Linked DNA regions of Homo sapiens. The protein of the gene in region 2 interacts with the protein of the main gene of each other region in a biochemical or structural test. Each region holds a gene or a part of one and is shown on either strand. Other genes may lie near its edges.

The links. Proteins that work in one complex are often made in the same cells at the same time.
Region 1: the proteins of EIF2S1 (region 2) and ANXA1 interact in a test that uses a peptide from one of them, tested with the Homo sapiens proteins (one large-scale study listed by BioGRID).

Annotation. Positions count from the first base shown.
Region 1 is NC_000009.12:73,154,865-73,158,364, reverse strand, and holds part of ANXA1 (annexin A1), read right to left. Parts: intron 1-3,500. UniProt on the Homo sapiens protein: Plays important roles in the innate immune response as effector of glucocorticoid-mediated responses and regulator of the inflammatory process. Has anti-inflammatory activity.
Region 2 is NC_000014.9:67,363,328-67,366,827, reverse strand, and holds part of EIF2S1 (eukaryotic translation initiation factor 2 subunit 1), read right to left. Parts: intron 2,062-3,500; 5' UTR 2,061-2,061; coding exon 1,820-2,060; intron 1-1,819. UniProt on the Homo sapiens protein: Member of the eIF2 complex that functions in the early steps of protein synthesis by forming a ternary complex with GTP and initiator tRNA. This complex binds to a 40S ribosomal subunit, followed by mRNA binding to form a 43S pre-initiation complex (43S PIC).

The sequences.
Region 1 (3,500 bases), on a different chromosome or scaffold from region 2:
GTAATTTTTTTTAAAGGAAGCTTTTATACTTAAAATGAAACCATACCCTCCTCTCTGAAATTGAACTCTTTCTTGGCATATTCAGTTCTAAATTTTAGAGATCAGACAACTACTACAAGTAAGCACACAGGCTGAAGAGAGGAGTTTGTGGTTCACTACATTGTTCTAAATTTGTAGACCACCCACCATATGCCAAGCACTAAGAGTACAAAAACATTGAAATATCATCTTAAGTACCCTCAGGACTTAAAGCTAGTGTGTGCTCTCCATAGGAAAACATAAGGGCTAAAGAAACTTCTTAGAGTAGGCCCTGGCTGACCCAAGCCTCTCTTGAAATGAGTCAAGATTAACCTGGCAGAAAAGTTAAAGAAGAAGCTTGTCATATTTGGGAAGCAGAAGAAAGTTTGCTGGAGCGAGAAATGTTGGCAGAAGCTGAAACAAGAAGCTTCAATGTGTCCACAAAGCTTTGGGAAAACATTAATGGGTTTCTTTTTGTTTGTTTGTTTTTTTAAAGCAGCATGGTTTCATTTATGTTTCCGAAAGACCATTCATCCTTTATCATGGAGAATGGCTAAGAGATAGACAAGATGGAGGATTAGAATACTATTTAGTAGACCATTAGACCATCTATGTGGAATTAATGAGAGCCTGTACAAAAGTAATGGCTAGATGAAAAGCTTAATGATTGCTTTTTTTTTTTTTTTTTTTTTTGAGATGGAGTCTTTCTCTGTCGCCCAGGCTGGAGTGCAGTGGTGAAATCTCGACTCACTGCAACCTCCGTCTCCTGGGTTCAAGCAATTCTCCTGCCTCAGCCTCCTGAGTAGCTGGGATTACAGGCACCAGCCACCACGCCCGGCTAATTTTTGTATTTTTAGTAGAGACAGGTTTTCACCATGTTGGCTAGGCTGATTTTGAACTCATGACCCCAAGTGATCTGCCCGCCTCGGCCTCCCAAAGTGCTGGAATTACAGGTGTGAGCTACCACTCCCAGCCAATGATTACATTTATAAGGTAAAATAACTTGTGCCAATCTGTACAAGTGAATTCAGATTTAAAATTTTAATTGTAAAAAGATATCCAGGTGATATTTCTCCCTGAATAATTTAGTTTCCTTTTCTATTTCTTGATATAAAAGTACTCAGCATTGAAGTAATTGCTATCTTCACATTTCTTCCTATTTGAGCTGTCTAAATAGTAGTCCTACATATTTTCCCACCCAACACAAAAAACCCAGAAAAGAATTATTTTATACTGGATTTTTTTGTTGTAGCAGGAAGCCTAGAGGTGCAATTGTAACATGCATGTTCTTTTGGCAAACTCTATCTTAAAGGAAATTTCTTGAATTGCTATCATGACTTGGCAATATTTTTATTTAATGAGACATATATTTTTAAGATCTTAAGTATATTGAAAATTAATGTGTTCTCTGTTTTGGCCACACACACACAAAATGCCATCACAGATCCTTTTAGTCTGGGGATGTTTTTCAGAGGCCTTGCTCAAGGTCTACACTGATCTGTCTATCTACACCATTCTGTTTCACCCCTCTAGAGACTACTCTCATGAATGTTTGTGAGAGAGGTTGGGAGGACAATCTTGGCAGTTTTAAATTCTTGATATGAAGATAAATGACTCATGAGGCATAAACTGATTCCATAAACTGATTCCTCAACAGCATGTTCAGACAAACTCTTTCCATTTTCACCTGCTAAAAAGTAACTGGAGTTGCAAGTAATAACACTGAATGCATGAAGAAAATAATATCCAAAGCAGAAATCATCCCCACTTAATTCGCATGGGATTGCTCTTATTACTATTCTGTCATCTGTGAGAAGAACCAATACTTTTTCCATTCATTTAAAGCAGCCTGTTTCCTAAATATAATTGATAGACTTAAAATTGCTTCCTGATAAAGTAACAACCCGCAATTTTGCACAAGGTTTTAGTTCCCATTACAGTCTAGTTTCATGCAATTGCGGTTGCCACATGGAGTTTCATATTCCACCTTCTTAATTGGCACACCCAATACTTTAAAAGCAATTCTAGCAGCTTCAGGCACTCAAAATTTCCATTTTCATCATTTCATCCAAGGCTTTGATAAGGAAGAATCATCAAAATGAGTGTTAAAATTCATCACTTGGCAAAGTACTACTCCATCACTTATAAAAACATGTTTTTATTATTTATTTATTTTATTTATTTATTTATTTATTTATATTATTTATTATTATTATTTATTTATTATTATTATTATTATTATTCCATTCTTTTCAATTAGCAAATAAAAACTTCAAAAGAAAGCAAAAGAAAGACTAAAGATATTGTCCAGTCTAATATTAAAGGTGTCTCTGACAACTTCAAAATAAACGTTATAAAAACTTTACTGTACTGTTTTTTTTTTACTTCTAAAAAATACTTGAATAATGTCCATTTAAAAAAAAAGCCAGAGAAAGCCCAGGAAAAGGTATATTAATTACATAACACAAGATAACAAAAATAAGTTGTTTAAGTCACTTATTTGAAAGAGAGAGCATCCCTAGAGGAGACAGCTTTGTGATTTGTATCTTCTAAGTTCCTACATTCTAGCCTGAAGTATTTGGATAGACTAAAAGCATAATCTAGGAAAGAAAAGCAACCAATAGAGAATTTTCTTCAAGAAATCAATTAGAGAAAAACGGAATCTGAATTCAGCCAAATTCACCACCAGCTCTTAGCAAAGATTAAAGACAGGAGCATCAAGGCAGGATATAAGAAATTGCTCTAAAGGAAACAGATTTTATCACATACAGCTGGTTAAGGGCTCAAAGCCAACTGCACGTATTAACTGAACTTCTGAATAATTATAATACAACTAACAAATACCAAATATATATTTTTTTATATATTGGCCAAATTCTATCCTTAAGCCGTTCTGACTCTTCAATACCTACACTCTGCATGAAAACCTGCCTAAGCCAATGAGTTCATGAAAGGTTTTCTTTTTTCTATCTTTTTGTTTGTAGTGTATAAAGCTTGCAATAGATTTTAAAGAGCCTGTTCTATCAACTTATAGATTTCAACTAACTCAATACAGATTTCAACTAACCAAAGATAAGCTCTAAAACTAAGTTTATTTCAGTACTTAGCATGAGCTCATTGACGGTGAAATTGGCCATTTATACATAGGCAAATCTATAAGGAAATTAACAATATTTCACATTTCTTCTAATTAATGGTCTTTTTGTGAACATGCACTGCCTACTAATGTCAGCTTATCTATGATTTGAATGTATAGCTTTCTAAAGCGTAGCAATTTTTTTGCATATTTATGTGTCCTAAGAGAGTCCCCCCGCTTCATTTTTCCATCTCTCAGCCTCATGAAAGGCTACCTCTATCTAGAATTTGTGACAGAGGAAGCTGAGTTTTGTGGTTGATTGTATCTTCCTGGTTACAATCTAGAACTATCAGAGTTTTGCAATGATAGTAACAGCAATGACTAACCCTTGCTTGGAATAATAGCC
Region 2 (3,500 bases):
GTCGACTCACCTTCAAATTTTCAATTTTGGCCTGCTTTTGGCTGCTTCTCATTGTCTTTAGGTAGTTATTTTTCATACTTGTTCAGGGTTTATGGCATTTACGTTGAAAGGCTTGTCTAGGAGGACATAATTCTCTAGTATCAAAATGAATCCTCTCTACAGGCTCTTTTGCACTTTGCTTTTTCTCATCCTATCCTGGAGATCTTCCATATCAAAATATTCAGATCTCATTCTGCATAAAATTGCATTGCACGCATTTGTACTGATTTATTTAACCAGTCCCCATTTTGGTCATTTCCTGGTTTTAGTTAATGCCATACAAACAAATGCTATGGAAATATCTTTACATGTATCTACTGTACGTAAGCAAGTATGCCATTCCATATTTTTTCTGATTGCAACTAAAAACATATTTGATTCCTCCTTTTGTGTATATTTTATACAATAGAAAAAGAAGGCTGAGCACAGTGGCTCACACCTGTAATCCCAGTACTTTGTGAGGCCAAGGCAGGAGAATCGCTTGAGCCCAGTTCAAGACTAGCCTGGGCAACACAGCAAGACCCCATCTCTACAAAGAAAGTTAGCTGGGCAGGGTGGCACATGCCTGTAGTTCCAGCTACTTGGGAGGACTGCTTGAGGAACACTTGAACACAGGAGTTCAAGGCTGCAGCGACCTATGATCATACCACTACACTGCAGCCTGGGTGACAGAGCAAGACCCCAATTCTTAAAAAAAAAAAAAAAAAGTACAAGATTAGACACTACTTTAGGTACTACTAGGACAGTGATGTGAAGACTTACCTAAGTTTAACAAATAGTCTCAAAGTAGTTTAATAATTTTGGGCGGGGCTATAGCTAAGTCATAGCAAAACATTTAAAACAATCCATGTGCTAAGTAGCAGTCACTACCTAAGGCATAAGACATCCTCAAAATCTATGTATCATCTAAGGCTATAATAAAAAAAATTAAAATGTCAGTATGTATAAAATTAATCACTTGCAGAAGTGAGAAAGTATCAGTAAACCAGACGGCTGAGGAGATTCAGAAGGGTAAGTTGAATCAAGGTGACTGATATGAAGCCTTTCGGACATGATGGTAACTAATGACCTAAAACTAACACCTAACAAATTATAGTAAGATGGCTGAAACTAAAACCTACGTAATGGTATTGTACACCATGTTTAAAAAAAGAGTATTCACAAAGGTGATGATTTACATGGGGCCCAGAAAAGGCATCCAATAAGTAAAAAATGAATGCTCATCCAAAACTGTCTGAAAGATACCACGAGATCTGGTAGATGCAAACATTCTAATTACCAGCAAGATATACAATGTTGGATTTCAGGTGTGTATATACACGCATAGTATATTGCTTTTTCAAAGCTTATATAAAAGATCCCTAAAATCCATTTGCCCCATTTTCATGCTTACCCAGTGATCTCATTACTATTTTAGCTTTAAATCAAGAAAAAGGCATCCAACATATTCAGGCCTACCAATGTAAATGAACTAGTACTCTGACTTACCTGTCTCTAAGTTTGGTTACCATGAGTCAATTATCAAGATCCTGATAAACACTAGAAATAAAATTCAAGTTATCTGATCCATAAAATCCTAGGATGTACTAATTAAACTACTATTAAGAGATCTTGCTTAGATAGCTAATTGGCATCCTTTTCTAACAACTTTGTATGTAAAAGGTTTAAGTATAAAAGGAGCTTTTTTTTTTAAGCTGCAGCTTGCAATTTACAAAAAATGTATTTTTAAATAAACCATTTTAAATCTGAAATTTATATTACAGATATTTTTCTCACTTACCTTTTTCTTTGTCCACCCTAATGACAACCACACACTCATTCCTGCCAATTCGGATGAGTTTGTTGATAGAACGGATACGCCTTCTGGATAATTCACTAAGAAGAATCATGCCTTCAATGTTGTTGTATTCCAGCAAGCTGACATAAGCCCCCATTTCAGCAATGGATCTGACATTCACCATCACTACATCTTCCACCTCAGGAAATTTGTGTTGATAAAATCTACAACTTAGACCCGGCATTCTGCAATTTAAACAAAAGAATTAAGTAAGTATTCAGTTAAGGTGAAAATAAAAAAAAAATCAATTTCCACATCCTGCCACTGAAAGAAAAGATGAAGAAAAAAATAGTTATTAGTCTTAGTCTTCTCATCCTTTGAAACTTCTTAAGTGGTACCAGAAAACAGATAATGTTCAGGAACCAAGCTTTAATTTTTATTTTGCTCAACATTTTTGTAATGCTTGGGTGATTCTCTGCCTTTAGTTTCAGAGGAATCATAAAAAATAATGACCATCTATAAAGTACTCCAAGACCTAAGGATTAAAGGAATACCTCAAGAGTAAAATACTACTTTAAGGCATATCAAATGATGGGAAGCATCACTATTATAACTAATCAGAAAACTAAAGCTACTCTTTGCCGAAGTGAGCAAACATTGTATACGCTACCACTCACTATATAAAGGAAAAAATTTTCTACCTAAACCCTAACCAATATACCAAATGATACATTCTGTCATTTATTATAGCCAAAATTACAGTGTCACATGTCAAAACAACAAAAACTAAAAAAATTTTAATCACAAAATAAACTAAAATGCATCCTCCTCTCATAATTCTTTTTCCTTGAATTCACAATGTCTAGCTTCTCTTATCCCCAATACTCCCAAATATTCCTTTCTTTTATTGAATAGGTATACCTAATCTTGAGAATAGCTTTAATCTCCATTACTACAAAGTTCAAGTTTCTCTTAACCTCCAAGCATTAAAGATATTTACAATTATTCCCTTTGATCCACCCAACCTACTTTCAGCACTACTCCTTTTATGATCCACAAGCCTGAAATCATAGCCTGGGTAGAAGCATATTTAAAAAAGGAAGCTCTCAAACTAATCATGGCTGATGATTTTCATGTTTTTCTGTTAACCTTCACTGTTGTCACTGCTCAAAACGTAGGTAGTAACAGAACTTAAAGGCCTAAGAAAACCTTGTGAAAATTCATATAATAACTTATTAATTGGCACCTGCCTATATCTTCTCAGTGGCTTCCCACTGACTTATGTATCTTTCCACTACCTACAGAATCCTATATGATCTGGCCATTGCCTATCTCCTTGTGGTACAACTTTCTCCCTAGTTCTCCCCATTTTATAGATTAAAAAACTGAAGCACAGGTTAAGTTACTTGTTCTTTCACATACTGCTAACAGGTGATGAGTCAGGATTTGAATCCATGAAGTCTGGATCCAGAGTCTGTCCTCTTATCAGTAAGACTATATTCTCTCAAAACTATTCATAAATATATTATAATTAGAAACATTTTACTTAAAAAGCAACATTAATATATATTCAGTGCCAGAGTACATAACACCAATAAGTGCAAACTATTAGTACTCATCTGTTTGACAACAAAGAGCAGCATATTAATGACAGTAGCAGAGATGTATTTCTTTGTAGGGAATA